Linked DNA regions of Homo sapiens: region 2 is linked to region 1. Evidence: fine-mapped expression QTL. A gene starts in region 1. The other region holds a variant in brackets. All regions are shown on one strand. Distances are between the middles of the regions.

Region 1 (8,000 bases):
GTCAGCCATGTGACAAGAGCTAAGGATCTCTTCTGACAGCTCAAAGCAAGTTGACTTGGGCAGCAGAATGCAGTTTCTCTTTCTAGCTCCCAGACTTCTCTTCCCTACTCCCTGCAGTGGGCCTTTTGCAAAGATTGGAAGCCTTGGCCCTCTCCTGGCCAAGAATAACTATCCAAATCTACCCTTTGGCTCAGGCCCAGGAGGTCTGAATTATCAGGACAATACAACAACAGGCCTCGCCACAAAGGAGAACTTCAGGGTATGTCTGTGTTCTGATGTGGGGGGAGGTACAAAACAAGAGTCCAAAAAGTATTTGTGTCTTAGCAACAGATGTACACTGCATCAAAGCCCATCACAACATGACTCCTCCCCCACCCCAGGCCTCCAGCAGTCACGCTGAAATCCAAGCAGTAAACACCCTGGCATGTGTAGGAACCTCCCACTGCCCTGACAGTACATTTAGAGGTAGGTCAATGGTTCAACACAGGGAAATGCTCCCAGCCCCCAATCCTAAAGTCAGAAAGTTCAGCCCATCCCTACCCAAGAACAGTGCCTGAGGCCCTGCTGAAACCTGTCTGGCTCTTTACAGGGCTCAGTGTTCTGACCACAATCCTTTGGGACCAGCCCACCCCCAAGCCCCAGGCCCCACACACCCACCACAGGTCCACTAACCTCTTTGGTTAAGTCTCCACTGACTGGGGGGGCTACAGCCCCCAAATCCTCCAAATCTTCACCGAATCCCTGCTCCGTTTCGCTTTCTCGCACCCCGTTGTCTGGGCCTGTCACATCTTGGAGGCCACTGGAACTCTCGAGGGCGAGGCCTGAGTTGGGCTGACTGCCAGAGACAGACCCCTCTGGGTCTCGGTGAACCAGCCAGGCATTTACCTCAGTGGTTGGCACCTGGAACCTGTCCAGGGCCCTCACCTGACTGAGGAGCCGCCGGGCAGTGAAGTAATTGTCCAGGTCTATGCTCTTGGGGTGGATACCATAGCCATCCAAGGTATTCCTCAGGTTGTGGAACTGGGTCTGAGTATAGGCAGAACTGGGCCCCAGGATGATCTCCCGGAGTGGGGGAAGCTGTGAGGTCAGGTAAGTATCCACGTCCACCCGTACCCCAATCAAACTCAGCAGAATGGTGAACTGGAGAAGTCCTTCCGTTAAGTATTTCTTCAGAGAAAGCATTGCTGAAGGACCAGAATGTTTATGCTTTTTGGTTTTTAAAATCTTCCAAAAGACAAATCAAGGCCACTGCTCTGCCGCTCCAGCCAGCAGGTTACCCTCCTCAGTGTCAAACCCCGTACCCCACCCTGGCAGAACACAAGGGATGAGCTCCCTGACGGCCCCAGAGGAAAGCACACCCTGTGGAGCCAAGGCCAAGGACACACTCCAGACCACATTCACTTTCCCTTCTCGACACCTCACCTCTGAAAGTACAACTGTTCCTAACCCAGTCCAGGTCCTCAAGGGCCCACGTGACTTACTTTCTCCACAGTCCACATACAGTCACTTCCTCACTCACATTAGTTGTCCTCTCTGTAGATTCCAATGCAGGCTGTTCTCAGGAACAGCTGATGGATTTTTTTTTTCCTTCTCCCTCCTAAGGTTTATTTTCTTTGGCTGGAGCTACAGGCCTTTCGTCTTGGGTCAGAGTGTCCCGCCTCCTCCACACTTACCAGGGGGGTTTCCAGAGAAACCTGAAATGGGAATCACAAAAGCAACAGGATAAGATTCCATACTTTTCACATCATGATCAGGGTAGGAAAACCTTCACAGTAGAAGGTAGAAAACACATTCAAAGGACACTTTCACTTTTTTTTTTTTTGAGACAGAGTCTCACTCTGTCGCCCAGGCTAGAGTGCAGTGGCGTGATCTGTGCTCACTGCAACCTCCACCTTCTGCATTCAAGCGATTCTCCTGCCTCAGCCTCCCAAGTATCTGGGATTACAGGCGCCTGCCACCACGCCCTGCTAATTTTTGTATTTTTAGTAGAGATGGGGTTTCACTATGTTGGCCAGGCTGGTCTCAAGCTCCTGACCTCAGGTGATCTGCCCGCCTCGGCCCCCCAAAGTGCTGGGATCACAGGCGTGAGCCACTGTGCCTGGCCTAAAGGCCACTTTTACAGGAAGAAAGGACTACTTACACTCTCAGAAAAAAAACCCAAAATATAGCAACCGATCATAGAAGAACTATCAAAGAAAGCTACTGATCACGAATGATCTCAGTTACTGAATATTAAATGTGCAATATCCTAAAATGTAGCTTGGTTTGAATAAGCAGACAATAACCAGGTCATCCAAAATATCTTACACCTTTGTTTTATTTACCAGCCCTCCTCCCCCACTACAGGCGCATTACCCAGCTTCTATTTTCACATGAGAAGCCCATTTCCTGTCTTAAAAGTAAAGCTGGATTTTCACCCCTCGGGAGAAAACCACCCATAACAGTTGTCTTTTCTCAGTTCAAAAAGGCAAGATTATTAAACAGTGAGAGTGTGGAAGGACAAAAGGACAATGTTCAGGCCACCACTTCACCCAGAAGAAGAATGCCTTTTGTTTTCTGAACTTTGAAATCTGATTTCCCTTTCCTATCCTCACAACTTACAAAAGAAAAAAAAGGAAAAGGGCCGACGCCTGTAATCCCAGCACTTCGGGAGGCCGAGGAGGGCGGATCACCCGAGGTCGGGAGTTTGAGACCAGCCTGAACAACATGGAGAAACCCCATCTCAACTAAAAATACAAAAATTAGCCGGGCGTGGTGGCGCATGCCTGTAATCCCAGCTACTCGGGAGGCTGAGACAGGAGAATCGCTTGAACCCAGGAAACGGAGGTTGTGGTGGGCCGATATCGCGCCACTGCACTCCAGCCTGGGCAACAAGAGCAAAACTCCGTCTCAAAAAAAGAAAAAAAAGAAAGAAAAGAAAAGGAAAGAAAAAAAGGAGAGGGATGGTGGGGGCCCTACTACGCAGGACTATTCCGTCCAGAATTTGCATAGGCAGGTTTTATTTTCATTCATATGACCTTCTGAGCCAAAGCAGAAGGATATGGCCACGTTCTCTAGCCAGACTGCCCAGTGCAGAGGAAGTAAATCTGTTTCTGGTCTCCACTTTTGAGCTTCCATTAATGTCACAAACCAAGACATACCGCCTCTCCTCTCCTGCGTTGTGACCCATCTACCAACTTCATTCTACAGGGGGAGAGCGAGCTATACGTACACACACGAACGTGCGCACACACACACACTCACACTCCCTCTCTCTGGTCAGAGTAAACACAATTGCGACCCAGAATTCCTGCTTACGCTACCCTCCCGTTCTCACGCAATTTATTACTAAAACCTCCCAGGAGCCAATTAAGTTCGAGGAACCGGACAAAGTCCCTTAAAAATCAAGTAGGTGCAGGGCCCATAGCCTGAGGCTGGTCCCACCCTGCCCGGATACCCGAGTCCGGCTGAGACCAAGTCGCCATGCCCACTCTCGGCGCCGGAGCTTCTAGCCTCCAGGGGCGGCCAGCGAACAAGTGCTACTTCCCTGGCCTTGACCCACCCTTACAGCAAACCCCACCCCGCCCTCCGTCCCGATGGCCCCACCCCACTCCCAAGTCCAGGCCTCACACCACGCCTTCTCGTGCCCTCAACCCTGCCCAGTCCATCCCACCCCGGAGCCAGCTTTCCTCTCGGCCCCGCGCGGGGCCCCTCCCTGTCAGGCCCAGGGCCGGGCTCTGGCGGGAACCCCGCTCGGCCCCCGCCTCCTGCACCTCAGCACCATCCCGTCGCCCCATAAGCCTCGGCCCCGCGGCGCTGCAACCCTCCCTTCTGGGAAAGGAATGTGCCCGATACCCACTGCTTAGCTCGGCGTCCGCCGCTGCCTCCACAGCAGGCCCTAAGCCCGAGTCCCGGCCTCGCCGCCGCCACCGCCGGCCGGCCTAGAGCTCGGAGCCTCCGCTTACCTCCCCGCCCCCTCCTGCTACCGCACTCGGAAACCCGCCCGCCGCAAACACCCTAGGAACAGTTTCTCCAATCAACGAGCCGAGGCCGGGGCCGTCGACGGATGTCCCTCTGATTGGCAGCAGAGAGGGCCCAATGGCTGAGTGTACCTCCTCATCCCCGGACCTGATTTCCCAAGACTGACATAATTCCCGGCCCAATGAGTACCTAGGCCCGCCCCGCGGTATGGACCCACCAATGAGGAGGGCGAAGGCCCTAGTGTCTGGCATTCTGGGCCCCTCGGCCGCGCCTTCGCGGCGGGCGATGTTAGTGGGCTTGGGCGTTGGGTGAAGTATCCAGGTTGGGCGCTTCCAGCGCTTTCTGTGGCGGGGGAATGAAGGCCTAGGTCAGGGAATAGGAAGGTGTATCGCCGCCAGAGTGCGGAACACCCTCGCCTTGAGGGTTCCCACAGTGACTTGCAAAAGTCTAGTGAGACCCGAGAATGCTGAGGCGGGACACGAAGCATGTGGTTCTTGTGGTTGCGACGCTCGTGCCGCCATCTTGGGTGCTGGCGGCGGAAACCGGTACCCCAACTTCCCCTCGGTGCGAACCTGGAGAAGCCACCCCAGCTGTGAGGGACGGTTGCGCCTCATGGCCCAGGCAAGGGTACCTTCGCTGGAGCAGTACCGCGGACGGATATCATGAGGGTGGTGGGACGTTGGCGGAACGTTGGCGGAACGTTGGCGGTGTGAGAGGTGTGGGGTAATGGCGATTTTTGTCATGGTAGAAACAGCCCAAAGGACCCCCCTCGTTTGGCCTCCCACGCAGCTTAGTCTTGCTTTTTTAGGGATGTTTCTCATTTTTTAATTTCTCCAGTCCCATCTGGTTATATTGCCAAAACATGTTTGTGACTCTCAAACGTTAGTTTACTCCCAGCATCACTTGGGGAGCTTGCTAAGCTACGAATTCCGAGGTCCCACTGGAGAGTCTGATTTAATGACCCTGGAGTGGCGGCCGGATAACCTGCCTGCTGGGGTGATTTTAACGCAGCTGATGCGAAGACCCCATTTAGGGAATCATTGGGTTGGCGTTTGCAATGCGTTCCTCCCAGCTATAGGACAAAGAGGTGTCAACTCAACTGTGTCTTCTTAGAAGAGCCCATTATTTATAGGTGAGTCATTAGTCCCTGTACAACTAAGGACAAGGCCAACTGATAACTCAGTAAATAATCGAGTCCATTTTGTGCTTGCGAGTTAGGGGCTTAATTTGGGGTGGTTTGCAGATTAAGTACTTTCACTGCATATAATAAACGTACACCAGCAAACCACTCATGGAATTCTTAAAAAAACTTCTGAGCTAGTTTACCAGTTTCAAAGACTAATTCAGAGAGCATGTTTTACCTATTCTAGGCTGGACTGGAACTCCTGGACTCAAGCGATCTTTCCATTTATCAGGGACTACTGACGCGTGTCTCCCAATAAATACCTGAGTATAAACAACATGAGGACTAGAATTTTGTGCGTTAACTGTTATAACTTAGTAGACACTCAAATACTGAGTACTTGAAGGGGGACTCAAGCAGGCAGGCCTCTGATTTTCCTGTTAAAAGCAGAAATTAACCACACCTTGGAGGATGTACAGTTTTGAAGGATATGGCATGTTAACAATAAAATAGGAGACCATTCAGTCCCCGAAGTAGTGAGACAATGAAGATAAAGACTGGTATTGTATAAGAAAGGAGGAATATTTAGGTGTGGCCATCAACTCTAAAAATAAATAAGGTTGAGAAGGAAGTATTTTAAACATAGAACTGGGCCCGGCGCAGTGGCTCACAGTAGCACCTTGGGAGGCCGAGGCGGGAGGATTGCTTGACCAGCCTGGGCAGCATAGTGAGACCCCCGTCGCTACAAAAAAACAAGCTGGGCTTGGTGCCACACATCTATAGTCCCAACTACTCAGGAGGCTGAGGTGGGAGGATTTCTTGAGCTGGGAGATTGAGGCTGCAGTGAGCTATGATGGTGCCAGTCTGGGCAACAGTGAGATGCTTCCTCAACAAAACAAAACATAAAATTGAGAGATATAAAGGCTCAACTACAGTGTTTAACTACAAGACAATTTTGAGAAGGTGAAAAGAGCATACTAAAGTTGGTCTTTTTTTGACAGAAAAATACAGAACAATTTTCAGTCCTAACAGTTCAAACTAAAACTGGACAATCGTTTATCTGTGGAGTTTCCTGCTTAGCCATTTCACAAAGGTGGGCAGAAAAAGGGAAAGAGTTGCAAGGGCCGAAGAGAGTAAAGGTGTAGAGACAAACTCAGTCGCAACAGCAGGCCTAGGCCTGGCAGGGTGTGGGCGCCCAGGATATTTGATGCTCCATGGAAGGGAGTGGAGACAGAAAGACTGTCTTCCATTCTGTCTAGAGTTCCAGATCAAGTCTGAGCAGGTGCAAGCTTTCCCAGAACCTGCTGATTAACCTTGTAAAACCCAGGGTGTGTCCTTCTTCACCCAGGAAGCCACCCCCTCCTTTCCCCCAACACTCTCCCCCTCCCTTTGCCTGGGACAGCTGTTAATAGGACAGTTACCCAAGAAGCAAAAGAAGGATCCCATGCTGATGTGTCATCAGTCCCGGTATATCCATTAAATCAGACTGAGAAGACCACTGGAAAAAGTGAGCGCATGCATGTGGCTCCCTAAGGGAAAGGCTGGCAGCCATTGTAAAACTAGGCCTTGCCCCTGCGACTCCAGGCTGGGCAGGAGAGAGAAGAAGGCAGTGGAAGCCGAGAAGAGGGTTAGGTCTAAAGCACACGGATTTGGGGCCAGCTAACTATAAAACATACACGGAAATCCCCACCCCCACCCCAGGAATAGCAGTGTAGTGTCTACCGACCCAGCTTCCCTGGTAGGAAAAGCTGCTGCTGCCGCCAACAGCCACATCCATCCTGCAGTCATCCCTGGAGGATGACACATGCCAGGAATCCTCAGAGAAGGGGCTGTGGGAGGGCAGGCTGGCTGGGGCTCTGATTTCTTCTGGAACAGTGAAATTGCTTTTTCCCTAAAAGGGAAACCCAGGCTTTCTGCCATTCTGGTTGTCCATTATCTTTCCTCTAAAAATGTCTCTAAGGCCAGGCACAGTGGCTCACACCTGTAACCCCAGCACTTCGAGAGGCCCAGGTGGGCAGATCACTTGAGCCAGGAGTTTGAGACCAGCCTGGCCAACATAGTGAAAACCCATCTCTACAAAAAAAATACAAAAATTAGCCAGGCGTGGTGGTTCATGCCTGTAGTCCTAGCTAGTGGGGAGGCTGAGGTGGAAAGATCACCCGATCCTGGGGAGGTTGAGGGTGCAGTAAGCTGTGATTGCGCCATTGCACTCCAGTCTGGGCAACAGAGTAAGACCCTGTCTCAAAAAAAATAATAAAAAGAAAAACATGTCTTTAAGTTTTGCTAATCCATATAAGTATTTCTTACTCTGTAACCTCATCTAATCCAGGGGAATAGATTAGATAGATGATTGCCTGAGATTTCCTTACAGTCCTGAGAGATGGTAGGAATACATCATGTCAATACTAAATGTTAGCATGTTTTGCAAAGAAATCAATTAGTTTTCTGGCAAATCCGGACATATGGCCCTCTCTCTTATATGGTAAACATCATCAGCAAGCTTGTTACCATTAAACCACCAAAAAGTAAAGCTCTCCTGCAAGCCAGCCTCTTTCCTATGCACCACTACCACACTCTTAGAAGATTGCTTCTCAATCCTGGCTGCATATTAGAATCACCCAGGTGGGTAGCTCGTAAGAAATACCAATGCCCAGGTCCCACCCCACACCAATTAAAACAGCTGCCCAGAGCAGAATTGGACATCAGTATTTTGTAAAAGCTCTTCAGGTGATTCTTATGCACAGCCAGAGTAGAGAATCACTAGGTTGGAGCAAGAATCCACATTGGGGTAAAAAAAAAAAAAAAAAAAAAAAAGCAAAAGATTGTGGTAATACGGGAACACAGACTAGAATGATTATCTGACTTTTTTTTTTGAGATGGAGTCGCTCTGTGGTCCAGGCTGGAGTGCAGTGACACC
Region 2 (14,562 bases), 26 kb after region 1:
GATCCAGAAGGTGAATTTTAGGGTAAGAGTCTTCCTGGACACCTCCTCTTTTAGGCTGCCCTTCCTGTCCTCCCTGGGAATAGGGCTGCTAGGGCCTAGATGGTAGAAGCCCAAGCTCCTCTAGCAGAAGCCAACCACTGGGCTGACACACTTGTTAGGGGTGAGATGAGCAGCAGTTTCTGGGTGGGATGCCAGTTAATGGAAGAAATCTTCCTGTCCTCTCCCCGGCTAGGAGCACAAGTACCTCACCTCTTTCCTGGTAGGAAGTATAGACTGGGGAAATAAATACATCTTCAAAGAGGCACTAGGTGGCTGCCTTGGCCTTGAGGTTGGGGGTCAGGGGTATGGATAGAACCTCCCTGCCTTGTTTGGCTTTCTCATGTCTGGATGAAACCTTTCTTCCCATCTTTCTTCCCATCTTCCCTCACCCTCCACGCACCATAGCACAATCCCAGAGGTCCTGGCTTCCAAATGACAGGCTGCAGGACTTCTATTAACCAGTGACACAGGTGCAGCTCTGAATCACCCTAACCACTGCACCACCTCACCCATACCCCCAAGCCCCTTTCCTTCACCTCCCTGACCCAGGACCCTCATGCTGGCCCTACCCCACCCCTTGACTCTGCTTCCTTACAGGCAGATGATGGCGGCTTGACTGAACAGAGTGTGGCCCAGGTAGGCCCCCCTGCATCTGCCTTGGCTAGAAATGGTCTAGAGAGATACGGGGAGCAGAGCATCCTAGAGCATCCTAGGGGGACCCAGTGAAGTTATCAAGTCTGAAAAATCAGGGGTGAGAAGGGAAGGGATGAGGCAGTGACAGGTCATATCTTGGAAAGACTCACTGGAGGCCTCCGGGCTCTCCAACTCAGGGGAGCTGGGTACTAATGGATGGATGGGCATGTTACCATCAGCCCACCTCATCTCCTGGCTTGGTTTAGTTGGATTGAAACTAGGATGAGCTGCCTACCTTGGAGATGGCTGGGTCACTTGTGCACCCCAAAAATCTGGGAACTCAGGCCTCTGATGCGCCCTCTACCGAAACCTGGAAAGGGTACCAAATAGGAGTTTGGCTCTTAACCCCTGTCCTTGCCACTTAGGGTGCACACTGGGATTGTTAAGGGACTCTCAAACCCATGATAGGATCTGACTTTCCCCACTCATCACTTGTCACCTTACCCCTGAGTGACCTGGCTATGGAAGAACCTGCCACAACCCTGCATGGTCTTATCTGGAGGTGCTTGCAGAGCGTAAGGCCAGGGGGAGGTTCCTGGCTCTGAAGCCTGATCAGTTCCCCAGCTGCACAAACTTCCTGCTAGTTCAGGACGACTGTCTTGACCTCTCTTCTGTCCACCTGCAGGTCTCTCTGCTCAGACTAATCCTGCTTGTATGGAACTTCCCGCCCTGGCGCTAACTCCTCGTGCTGTGGTGGCCCTACCGAGATGAGCCTGTGCTGTCTCGTGTGGAGTCCCAGGTGTGGCGCCCATTTTCCTGCACTGCCCTTAGCGCTCACTCTGCTTCGCCCTCCCCTCTGATTCCCCATGTTTCCTCATACCATGCTGGAATGAATGCAGCTGCAAGGCAATTTTTAGAGTGGAAAGAGGGTAGGGAGTAATAAGCAGAGCAGATAAGAACACAGGTGCTCATGGGAGTCATCCCAGGGTACGTGTTCTACCTTACCACCTAAAGCTGGGTGACCTAGGGCAAGTTACTCAACCTCTCTGGGCCTCACATAATAACAGGACCCTCTTCATGGAGTTATGAGAATTCAATGAGCCAATGCGTGACAAGCTCTTAGTAGGGCTCCAAGCCAGTTAACACATGCTGAATAACCATCAGTATTTCTCCAAAGGGAGAAAGAATGAAAACATAGCATTTTTGATGGAATTCTTGAGTAAAAACAAAGGAAGCTACAGGTAGCCAATGGGGGATAAAATGAGGACAAAGTTAGATTCTGGCTAGGAGAATCAGGGGAACCCTAAGCCACTGTCCCCAAGAGAGGAGGGAGACTGTGCAGGAGGAGGAGACACAGCGTTCCCTCCTTCTCTAGAGGGGAATAAGGCTGAGTGGCTGGAGGGACAATCTGAGGGACACACCTGAGTCCTGTCCCCCTCTCCTGCTTTGGTATTGTGCATGCACGTGTGCACTTATATGGATTTGTGTAAGCACTGGGCTGAGACTTTCCACCAGGCATCCCACCGCAGGGTCTGGCTGGCCACCCTTTGCCAGCTATGCCACATCAGCAGTGGGTTGCGGTGGGGTGTTGAGGACACATTGCCAGCCATGGCCAGAGCTAGGGGTTTGCTGAGGCGTCTGAGCACAGGGAGTGTCAGGCCTGGGCCCCGTCTCCGCCTGGACGTGGCACTGTGGGCGGGAACTCTCATGGCATGACAGCGGGGAGACAGGCTGCTGCCACACCCACGCTGCAGATGCAGGAGCCAGAGGTCTGGGCAGGCTTGGGCCTGAGGTGGGAGCTGGCTGCAGCCGGTTTGGTCTGCGCTTTCTGACTTGGAGGGTTGGCCGCGTTTAAGCCAAGTGGAGACAAGCTGCTGCCACCTAGTGACCGGTGGTTGCAGGGGCGCTTCGGCAAGGTGGGCTGTGGACCTCCCCATGACTGTGTATGGAGGCATTTGACATTCTCAATTCTCTCTCAACCTCCCCCACCCCACCCCAGGTTCTTCAGTCTGCCAAGGAACAAATTAAATGGTCGTTATTGAAATGAAGGCTGTGGATTCAAGGCTCCCTGCCCCCCAGATCATTTCCCCAATCCTGGCAAAAGCCCAAAGATCCCAGGGTCAGGAGAGACCCCTCTGTATCCCCAGGTCCCTCCCAGAACTGACTCCTAAGGTCTCCAGCCAGGGCTTCTGAGATGCAAAGGTTTGGCCTCAGGAGAGTCACCTTTTCTCACGGCCCTGGCCTTAACTCATATCTTAGGCATTCCTGGCCCCAGGGCCCTAATAAACCTGCTTTTGTCTTCTGCCAAGGGTCTCCTTCTCTCTTGGCCTAGGAAGTGTGTGTGTGTGTGTGTGTTCATATAAGGGCTCCTGCACTTTCTGTGGCTCATCGTGGGGATATCCAGTACCAGGGTGGGGCGTGTCCCTGTGGTTGTGTGATTGGGCAGAGATGTGGGACAAGGGAAAGGGGACTATTTAACACCATGAGGGGGTGCGACGCTGATACCACGGAGCCCCATGTGTGGCGCATACTGCCAGGTAGGGGAGAGCAAAATATGGTACCCCTATTTTGCAATGCAGTACATACATGGTAGCTCCGCTGGGGATTCCTTGAGTCATTTTTTCCATTCCCAAACTCCAGAAGGGAAGAGAGGTAAGGCTTCCTCTGAACAAACCGAGAAACAGCATGGCTATTTTTCTTGGCATGCCTGGAACCGTGGAATTCCTATCCTGGCATACATCCTGGGCACTACAGCTCTCTGCAAGCTTGCGGGTGGTGGGGGCGAGGAAGCATCGCCAGCCCCCACCGTGCACATGTGTCCTGAGCACCCTGTGCGCTGCAGAGGGTGTGAAGAATTGCAGGTCCGGAGGGACAGGAGGGTGAAAGGGTGTCGCAGGGACAAACGGGAAGGGTGGAGATTGTATAGCCTTTCTGGGCGACACGACTTCCCTTCTCTGTCGCCGTCCCAGAACCTGTTTTCTCCTTTCCACTCTCTGACGCGTACACTTTCTGCGTCCCTGTAAATGCGTCCCTGAGCTTGTCTAGCGTTGCGTCCCGGGACAGCTCGTTTCCCTCGATCCTTTGCGGACTGCAGCTGGTGGCTCACGTTCCACCCCGGCTCCACCCCGGCCCCGCCCCTGGAGTGCGCTGAGCACTGCGGGAAGCCCCGCCCCAGGAAAGCCCCGCCCCAGGAAAGCATCCGCGATCCTATGGTGCCACCTGCAGGGACCGGCAGGAAACGCGCTCCCGCCGGACCGACCTGCTGACTAACTCCGCCCCCAGGGCGGACCCGACTCCGGCTCCTGAGAGTTACTGGTTGGTTTCCGACGCCGGCGACAGGACGTTGCCCTAGCAACCTGCACGCGTGACCCACCCTGCTAGTGCTGCGCCAGCGTGGGCACAGGAATTTCAGCGAAGGAGGGAAAGTGGCGAGCCGTGGACCTTAATAGAAGTTGTCCCTGCGGCTTTCAAGTCCTACATTATAAAACTGTTTAAGATTGGACATTTATAACGGGCTTGACTACTTCTGCAATTAGAGAAAATGATATAGTTATGTAAACATTTACATTGTAAGCGCTGAGTACGTAACCCGTCCCAGTAAATAATGCAAAATGGCAACTCTTGGAAGGGGAGAAAAAAAAAGAGTATTCGGTTAAATTCCGTGGAGTTCAGGGGCTAGTATGGCGACAAGAAAGGAGACATTTTCCAGAAATATTTTGGCAAATATGCGGCCACACCCAGGGCTTGGCTTCCTCCACCACCCTTAAGCGACCGCAAGGAGGGACGGGCAAATGCGCTTCTTAGCAACGCGGTCGCGCCCGCCTCGGCCCTGCTATTCCAATGTAGCAGGGACGGGAATGTAAAGGGACAGGCAGGAGGCTGGGCCCTTCA[C/A]ACAAACTGGCTCACCGAATCCTGTGAATTACGCGATGCTCTCCCCATTTTACGGAAGGGAACACTGAGCCTCAGGTTGACGTGTTTGGTGTAGTTTTCGCAGGGCGGGGCTCCGGATGGGGAACTGCTGGGGACAAGTGGCTTTCTCGCGCATCCCTGCCCTAGGCCCATCCGAACCCCTGGCCCACACAGTAACCGTACTAGGTTAAAAGGAAGGGGCTGAGGGGGCATGGCAATGCCGAGAGGCGACCGGAAAGGTGTCCTCGCCCGCGATGGCTGAGGGATTGTGGGGAGCGGCGCGGCTGCGAAGCAGCCGACGGACCCACGCCGCGGCGGAGAGGACAGCGCAGAGCGGGCTGCGCAGCACTGCCAGAGGACCCGGGAGGGCCGGCAAGGAAGGGCGCTGCCCCTTCCAGAGGACCCTGAGTTTGCAGGCCCAGCTTTCCGGGGGCTGAGGCGGAGACCCCGCTGGGGGTGGAGGGCCGCCGGCTGCTGTGCCCCCAGCTCCCACGTGGCGCCCGCAGCTCGGCAGAGCCGCCAGGATGACAAGCCTGGCCTGCCGCCCAGAGTCCTGCCCGCTGGCACCGGCTTCCTCCAGACTGCCTCATTAGCGCTGCCACAGGCCGGAGCCGGCGGGCGCGGAGGGGAGCGCGGAGGACTGGTTTTCGGGAAGGGCGGCCGGCGGTTCCGTGCGGGAGAGCAGCCAGGGCCTGCCTTCCAGTGTCCTGCCATCCCCAGGGCCCCTCTGCATCTTTCTGCATTCCTCCACCCCCTTGCCCTCGTGGGCGACCCTGCGGGCCCCAAGTGTATAAGGGAAGGGGGCCTCAGGGCCTCTTCTTTCCTCCAGCAGAATGGGCACCGGGGCACGTCTGAAACCCAGACCCCAGGAGCCAGGGCCCAGCCAGACGGCACGCACAGAAACACCGGCCCGGGGGCTCTGGCACGGAACAGGACGCCAGCAACAAGCAGAGCCAACTGGGGGCGCAGAGGTAGCGCGGCCTGGCCCTCGGACCCCTTTTATACCACTTAGAGCCCCGCACGCCCCCTGCCTTCCGGCTATTGGCTGGCAGGAAGGCGGGGCTGCTCGGGTTGGCTGGCATTCAGGCGGTGATGGATGGCTCCCCGCTGGCGGGACCGCAGCCGGGCTGGGCGCTTTGCAGGGCTGCAAAGATTGGCGGGGGTGGGGCCAGCCAGGCCTGGGTGTGGGGTGCAGGGGGATGAGCAGGACACCGCCCGAGGCTCAAATTTTCTGTGCCCTTAACCACCCTTTGAAACTTTGCTATATAGCGGGGGAAAAAAAAAAAATCTTACCTCTAAATTCCTACTAGATACCCTTTAACTTTGGAGGCCGATGCAGGTAATGTTGAATAATTTACCCAAAACAGTCTGGGCACAACCTTACAGACCTCCATTTCCTTCCAATTTAGGTCTCATTCATTCAACAATATTTGTTTGTTGATTCATTATTTCAAATATTTGAGTGTTTGCCATGAGCCAGGCACTGGGGAAAGAAAGAGAGAGACTGATTAGACTCCGTAGTGGGGTGAGGGTGGAGGTTAAAAGGCAGGAAGGGATTTAAGAGATATTTGAAAGTAGAAACGCCTTTAAAAATCAAATGATGTTCTTTATCTTGATCTGAGTAGTAGTAAAAAGTCACAGGCCGGGCGCAGTGGCTCACACCTGTAATCCCAGCACTTTGGGGAGCTGAGGCGGGCGGATCACAAGGTCAGGAGTTCGAGACCAGCCTGACCAACATGGTGAAACCCCGTCTCTACTAAAAATACAAAAATTAGCCAGGCATGATGGCAGGTGCCTGTAATCCCAGCTACTGGGGGAGGCTGAGGCAGGAGAATTGCTTGAACCCGGAAGGCGGAGGTTGCAGTGAGCCGAGATCTTGCCATTGCAATCCAGCCTGGGCAACAAGAGTGAAACTCTGTCTCAAAAAAAAAAAAAAAAAAGTCACAGAGTTTACACTTAAGATATGTGCTCTTTCCTGTAGGTAAGTCATACTTCAATAAAAAAAAAAAGAAATTAATCGAATGGCTGCCAAATTATATTCTAGCATCAATGTGTGTATGGTCCTCATCTGTTTCCTAATCTCTTCCTCATCTCTATGAACAGAAACTGGTAAACATGTTAGATGAGTTTCTAAATAAATAAGAGTGTGAGACACATGTAAATTTTATACTGCACATATAGATTAACGCCATTCCTCAAAATGCACCCTTTGGTAAGAAAAGCAACGTTAATAATAATAATAAAATAAACTCTTTTGGAATGAATTCGTTCAACAGACATTTACTAACAGGCTGTTTCCAGGCCAGGTACCTTGCTGGGGATTGTTGGGAGCTTCTAAAATGAATTGGGAAACACAGTTCCTGACTCAAGGAGATTACAATTTGGCTGGGGACAAAGTCATGTATGCAGATAAGGAAATGATAAATATTCACAGAGGAAACGGTGTATTACATAACATGTAAAGAAGGAAGATGGGGAAAGAGACACCCCAAAGGGAGCAACAACATAAGCAAGGCCAGAGGTAAGGAATCTCCGTTTAGGCTGGGCGCAGTGGCTCATGCCTGTAATCTCAGCACTTAGGAAGGGTGAGACAGGCAGGTTGCTTGAGTCTGGGAGTTCGAGACCAGCCTGGGCAACATGGCAAAACCCTGCCTCTACAAAAAAAAAAAAAATTAGCTGGGTGTAGTGGTGTGTGCCTGTAGTCCCAGCTACTGGGGGGAGAGGGGGCACCGTGGGCTGAGGTGGAAGGATCACTTGAGTCCAGGAGGCTGAGGCTGCTGTGAGCTGAGATCATGCCACTGCACTCCAGCCTGGAGGACAGAGCAAGACCCTGTCTAAAAAAAAAAAAAAAAAAAAAAAAAAGAAAAAGAAAAAAAATCTCTGTATTGTTTAAGGAATTTCAGTAGGCAAATGTAACTGGAATGGTGTGTGTCTGCAGGGAGTGTGTTGAGATCTGAGGTTTCTTCTAGATAGGTTGCAACTGGGTCGCAGTGAGCAATGAATGCCATGCTGAAGAATGACTGCTATTTATTGAGTTTGCTACTATATACACCTTAAAATTACCATTGTCCTCAAAACAACCTAACAAAGTAGGTATTGATAGGCTCGCTGCAGCCTCAACCTCCGGGGCTCAAGCTATCCTCTTACCTCAGTCCCCCGAGTAGCTGGGACCACAGGCATGTACCACCACACCCAGCTAATTTTTAAAAATTTTTTAATAGACACGAGGTCTCACCATGTTGCCCAGGCTGGTCTCAAACTCCTGAGCTCAAGCGATCTGTCCACTTTGGCCTCCCAAAGTGTTGGGTATACCGCGCCTGGCCCGTTAGCCTTCTTTTTACAAATGAGAGAGCTGAGAGTCTGAGAGACTGAATAACTTGCCTCAGAGCTCATAGGTGGGATTTAAACCCATTCTGGTCTGACTCCATTGCTGGCTCTTCTTTACCCCAACCACAGAGCTAAAGAACTTGGCTTGTGGCCAGTCGCCATGGCTCACACCTGTAATCCCAGTACTTTGGGAGGACAAGGTGGGTGGATCACCTGAGATCGAGACCAGCCCGACCAACATGGAGAAACCCTGTCTCTACTAAAAATACAAAATTAGCAGGGTGTGGTGGTGCATGCCTGTAATCCCAGCTACTCGGGAGGCTGAGGCAGGAGAATCGCTTGAACCCAGGAGGCAGAGGTTTCGGTGAGCCAAGATCGTGCCATTACACTTCAGCCTGGGCAACAAGAACGAAACTCCATCTCAAAAAAACAAAACAAAACAAAACAAAAAGTCAGTAAAGAACTTGGCCTGTGTTCTGAAGGTAATAGGGAACCACTGAAGATTTTCAAGCTGTTAAGTGATATCAGCTCTATGTTTTGAGGGAGGAACTCTGCTAGCAACATGGAACCTGGGTTAAAGAAGAGAACAGGAATTCAGGGTCAATTTATGACCCCCAAAACGAAATATTTTCATTACAGTCACTTCTCATTCTTGATCTAAAACAGTACCACCCAGCTTGATTGCTGATCTTACTCACCAAGCAGCTTGCAAAAATCAAGTCCACTCTCAGAATTTGAAGAGTTGGTGCTTGAATTAATTCAGATAATTGCAGGCAATCATTCCAAAAAAGGCCCTCCAAAAGGACCATTTTGTCAGGGACAATGATCTGAATATTTAGGTTCTGAAAAGTATGTTTAAAAATAACAAGTCGGCCGGGCACGGTGGCTCATGCCTGTGATCCCAGCACTTTGGGAGGCCAAGGCAGGTGGATCACAAGGTCAGGAGTTCAAGACCAGCCTGGCCAAGATGGTGAAACCCCCGTCTCTACTAAAAATACAAAAAAAAAAAAAAAAAAAATTAGCCAGGCATGGTGGCAGGTGCCTGTAATTCCAGCTACTCGGGAGGCTGAGGCAGGAGAATTGCTTGAACCCGGGAGGTGGAGGTTTCAGTGAGCTGAGATTGCACCATTGCACTCCAGCCTGGGCAACAAGAGCGAAACTCCGTCTCAAAAAAACAAAAAACAAACAAACAAAAAAAAACACAAGTCTACTTTATATCTTATATATTTAGTGCCCTCTTATCACTCTCACGTACCCCACTCTGAAAATAGACACATACACTTCAAATGAAAGAAAAAGAAGTAGCAAGAGGGATCTGATTCCATTTGACCAGATCCACAATTTCTCTTTGTCTAGACATCTGATTTTTTTTTTTTTTTTTTGAGACTGGGTCTTGCTCTGTCACCCAGCCTGGAGTGCAGTGGCATGAATACGGTTCACTGCAGCCTTGATTTCCTGGGGAGAAGTGATCCTCCTACTTCAGCTTCCCATGTAGCTTGGACTATAGGTGCACACCACGACACCTTGCTTTTTTTTTTTTTGCTTTTTTTTTTTTGGTAGGGAGATGGGGGTCTCACTTTGTTGTCCAGGCTGTTCTCAAACTCCTGGGCTCAAGTGATCCTCCTGCCTCAGCCTCCCAAAGTGCTGGGATTACAGGATTGAGCCGCCATGCCTAGCCTTTTTTTTTTTTCCTAAGGGACAGAGTTTTGCTCTGTCGCCTAGGTTGGAGTACAGTGGCGTGATCATGGCTCACTGCAGCCTCAACCTCCAGGTAGCTGGGACTACAGGCACATGCCACCACACCCGGCTAATTTTTTGTTTATTGTAGAGACAGGATTTTGCCATGTTGCCCAGGCTGGTCTTGAACTCCTGGACTCAAGCGATCCACCCAAGTCAGCCTCCCAAAGTGCTGGGATTACAGGCATGAGCCATCACAGCCAATCCAGACACCTGATTTTTAAGAGATTGAAAATATGTGTTTTACTCTCATGGCTGCCAGTGAGCCCTCATCTGAAACAAACAAACAAATAAACTTGAGGATAGAAGAAAACTCTGGAAGTGATGAGGCTATAACCTTGCTTCCAGACAACAGCTTCTTAGTGAGTGACAGGGTGTTCTGGGGTGGGGATATATGGGGTGAGTAGGTGAGGACTCAGGTTCTGGGTGGAATGATTGGAAGACTGGTTTCAGCTGCTTACCATTCCTAGCAGCCTTGTGTTTGGAAGGTTGGAGGGCTCTTGGAACATCCTCTCCTAAGAGATGGCTGGAAAAGTCCAGAATTAATTTATCTTGGGGAAACAGGTAAGATAAAAACTTCTGGAATCGGCCGGGCGTGGTGGCTCACACCTGTAATCCCAGCACTTTGGGAGGCCGAGGTGGGCAGATCACGAGGTCAGAAGTTTGAGACAAGCCTGACCAACATGGTGAAACCCCGTCTCTACTAAAAATACAAAAATTAGCTGGGCATAGTGACGTGCGCCTCTGGTCCCAGCTACTCAGAGGCTGAGGCAGGAGAATCGCTTGAACCCGGGAGATGGAAGTTGCAGTGAGCCAAGATCGCACCACTGCACTCCAGCCCTGGGTGACAGAGCGAGACTCCATCTCAAACAAACAAACAAACAAAACTTCTGGGACCCAAAGTCCCCCAAAATCTCAGTGTTCTCCAGATGGCAGCAAGAAGAAGTAGCTCTCACAGGTTTGCCCAGAAGATGGTGCTGTAAGACAAGCCCCTCTTTCATCCTTAGCCTGGCCGGGATCAGTGACGGGACTATGAAAAGGCTTGCAGGAACCAGACCTAGAGGGCATCTCTACTCTCTATTGGGCAGGAGTTATCTCACAGTGCTGAGCATTGCAGTCCATTCCTAGATACTCCCTAGACCACAGAGGAGAACCTTGGGGGTTCCCACATCAGAGCTGTGAGCACCTCCATGGGAACACGAAGGTGAGAGACCCTGGGCACCTGGGACAGCAATTGTCCTGAGAAAACAGGGCCTCTGATCAAGAAACACTGTCAAGAAATACAGACCTGGCTGGGCATGGTGTCTCGCTCCTGTAATCCCAGCACTTTGGGAGGCCGAGGTGGGCAGATCACTTTAGGTCAGGAGTTCGAGACCAACATGGCCAACATGGTGAAACCCTGTTTCTACTAAAAATACAAAAATTAGCTGGGCATGGTGACACATGCCTGTAATCCCAGCTACTCGGGAGGGTGAGGCAGGAGAATTGCTTGAACCCAAGAGATGGAGGTTGCAGTGAGCCGAGACTGCGCCACTGCACTACAGCCTGGGTGATGGAGTGAGACTCTGTCTCAAACAAACAAACAGAAAACAAATACAGACCTTTTCCTCCAACTCTGGAGATTTGGACCCATTCCCCAAGGTAGCTGGGAGGTTGAGGAAGGGGTCTGAGGGGCTTGGGCACTGACTGAAGTTTATACTCTAAGGTAGAAAAAAAAAAGTGGATCTTTCTGGGAGAGCAAGCTAGAGGCCTTCAGATTAGGAAAGTGAAACTCAAAGGTTGACTTACCCAATGTCACACAGCTAACAAGGGACAGAACTGAGACAAGAAAGAGGGTTTCCTGGAACCCTCTTACCTCTTCCTCTTTCTGCCCTGTGTTTTCTGCAGATCATGAGAATATAACGTTTATAAATAGAATTCCCTTGACAAGGAGTGCCTTCCTGGGCAGTAAGAAAAAATAGCAGGGCTCTTGACTCAAAACCCCAATGCACATTTTTCTTTGCATGCTTTTTTTTTTTTTAACAGTCTCACTCTATCACCCAGGCTAGTGTACAGTGGCACAGTCTCTGCTCACTGCAACCTCCACCTCCCAGGTTCAAGTAATTCTCCTGCCTCAGCCTCTTGAGTAGCTGGGATTACAGGCACCTGCCACCATGCCTGGTTAATTTTTGTATTTTTAGTAGAGACGGGGTTTCACCATGTTGCCCAGGCTGGTCTCGAACTCCTGAGCTCAAGCAATCTGCCCACCTCGGCCTCCCAAAGTGCTGGGAGCCACCATGGCTGGCTCCAATAGCGTTTTCTAATTTTTATTTTATTTATTTATTTATTTATTTATTTATTTATTTATTTATTTATTGAGACAGAATCTTGCTCTGTCGCCCAGGCTGGAGTAAGTGGCGCCATCCTGACTCACTGCTGCATGTGCCTCCTGGGTTCAAGTGATTCTCGTGCTTCAACCTCCCAAGTAGCTGGGACTAGAGGCACACAACACCATGCCCAGCTAATTTTTGTATTTTTAGTAGAGACAGGGTTTCACCATATTGGCCAGGCTAGTCTCAAACTCCTGACCTCAAGTGATCCTCCCGCCTTGGCCTCCCAAAGTGCTGGGATTACCGACATAAGCCACCACGCCCAGCACGTCTGTTTTTTAAATAATGAAATTAATAAGTGAGTCCCATCAGCTGCACTTCTTTTCTGAGGATAATTTATATACAAGACACAGAAAAGCTTCTTGCACAATGTTCTTTTAATAGGATTTATGTAAACTCACATTTGTCAGGATCCGTAAAAGTATTCTATTTCTTTCACACATGTAATTTTTTTGTACCTCTATCTCAGTGAAGGAGGCAGGCGTTGTCATTCCCACTTGTGAGGTGATTGAGGATGCTCTCGGGTGCTGGGAGCAGAAGCAATGCGGCCTGAACCCAGGTATGGATTTCATTTTGAAGAAAGGTCTCCTTGTAGGGCACTATCCTGGACCCAGTGGGCCTGCCCTTCCTATTTATTTCTTAGTGAAACCAGAAAGTTTGCTGGGGCCAGTATGATGGAGCATCGTGACTGACAAATGGCTGGGATTAGTCTAATGGGTAGGCAGCTGTATATGGAGGAAGGCGATGAGGGATCAGACCATTTCCCCAGATTCCAGTGGAAACTTTGCAGGCAGTAGCTAAATGAGTCAGAGAAGATAAGAAGACTGGAGTACCTTGCAGAACACTTCCCATACCCTCCCACCTCCAGCCCCAAGGAGGATTAGGATGCAGGGAGTCTGCAGATGAAACAGTTGTTTACAAAGGCTGGAGAAGCATGCCAGGAAACTAGTCCAGGGGCAGTTTCCAGGGCCTGAGATTGATACTACTCCATCTTGAAAACTGAAAAAAAAAAAAAAAAAAAAAAAAAAAAAAGTGTGACTCTTTAGTTCTGTACTCCCTTTAGTTCTGGGAGTGCATTTGGAGTTTCCTTTAAATTCTATGTGGATACAGGATGCTGAAGGAGGAGAATCACTTGAACCCCAGAGTCAGAGGTTGCAGTGAGATGAGATGATGCCACTGCTCTCCAGCCTGGGCGACAGAGTAAGACTGTTTCAAAAATAAAACAAAAGGCCAGGCGTGGTGGCTCACGCCTATAATCCCAGCACTTTGTGACTCCATCTCAAAAAAAAAATAATAAATAAATAAAATAAAATAAATTGTATGTGGATAAATTGAGGAGAGCTAAGGTGCAACACATGAGAAAGAGACAAGGGGTGGGGGTGGGCACAGTGGCTCACGCCTGTAATCCCACCACTTTGGGAGGCCAAGGCAGGTGGATCACCTGCGGTCAGGAGTTCACCAGCCTGGCCAACATGGTGAAACCTTGTCTCTACTAAAAATACAAAAATTAGCTAGGCATGGTGGCACACGCCTGTAGTCCCAGCTACTCCGGAGGCGGAGGCAGGATTGTTGCTTGAGCCCATGAGGCAGAGGTTGTAGCGAGCCGAGATCACGCCACTACACTCCAGCCTGGGCGACACAGTGAAACTCCAACTCAAAAAGAAAAAAAAAAGGGGGCGGGCGTGGGTGCTGGGAAGGCAAGAAGGAAATAGCAGAGGAGAGACAAGGGAACTCCTGGCTTGGGAAGGCTCTTGCCTGTCCCACCTCATGCAAGCATAAGCACTCCTGCCAAGACGGGGGCCCTCCGGAGGATGTCCAACTTAAAGCTCAGATCCTGGGCAGCAGCAATGGGGAGGGGATTGGGGTATCCCAGGGCAGATGGCCTTAAGGGACCTATTTGTAGAGGCAGAGGCCCAGAGGCTGTCATATGCAAGCTGCTTAGGGTCACAAGAGAAATCCGGAGCTTCCCTGATGACCATCTTTCTTCTCCTCCTCTTTCTGACTCTCTTCTTCCTTCCACTCTCCCTAAACCTGCTGAATCCCTTAGGCAGCTGGGATCAACATAAGCTAGAAACTGATGCGTATACAAGGGAAATCGGGAAGCCTAGAAACAGCAGAACCTGGGAGGGGTACCTGTGTACAGGGCAAATGAAGGGAGCCTGAAAACAGCTGAATCTGGGGAGATGGAACTGCCTAGTGAGAGAGCAAGGGGCTTCTGGAAACTGCTGAATCCAGGGAGGCCAATTTGTATACCGGGGAAATATGGGGGAACCTAGAAACAGCAGGATCTGGGGAGACAGTCGTGTACAGGGGGCAGACAGAGGGAGTAGCCTGAAAACAGTTGAATCTGGGGAGGAAGATTCGTGTGCAGAGGGAACAAGGGGAGACTGGAAACAGCACAATCTGGGGAGATAGGATAGTGTACAGTAGAAGCTAGGGTGGCCTGGAAACTGGGGCTCTCAGGGGATGAATCTGCTTTAAATTGCACGGGGGGGTGAGGGAGCCTGGGGAATCTGATGTGGCAGGCGCGAGCAGGGACACGGGCAAG

What was found.
Region 2: its variant is fine-mapped to the expression of NFE2L1 in whole blood (TOPMed, PIP above 0.99).

The regions. Positions count from the first base shown.
Region 1 is chr17:48,044,301-48,052,300 of GRCh38, reverse strand. NFE2L1 (NFE2 like bZIP transcription factor 1) reads right to left here and starts at 3,942. Exons shown (of 6, transcript NM_003204.3): 1 at 3,839-3,942; 2 at 673-1,694. The coding sequence starts at 1,182. It overlaps NFE2L1-DT (NFE2L1 divergent transcript), which reads left to right and starts at 4,248. Exons shown (of 2, transcript NR_170231.1): 1 at 4,248-4,676; 2 at 5,331-5,420. It also overlaps a transcript of COPZ2 not described here. RefSeq lists a silencer at 3,533-3,812 and enhancers at 3,363-3,964, 4,223-4,462, 3,965-4,566, 4,533-4,722, 4,567-5,170.
Region 2 is chr17:48,014,585-48,029,146 of GRCh38, reverse strand. COPZ2 (coat protein complex I subunit zeta 2) reads left to right here. Exons shown (of 9, transcript NM_016429.4): 7 at 1-22; 8 at 637-675; 9 at 2,672-2,980. The coding sequence ends at 2,719. Among named protein-coding and RNA genes, the nearest start is that of MIR10226, 11 kb to the left of the region's middle. RefSeq lists silencers at 1,154-1,420, 4,645-4,774 and enhancers at 1,804-2,360, 2,361-2,919, 11,344-11,443, 13,121-13,620, 13,621-14,122. The variant C/A (reference allele first, on the strand shown) is at 4,564.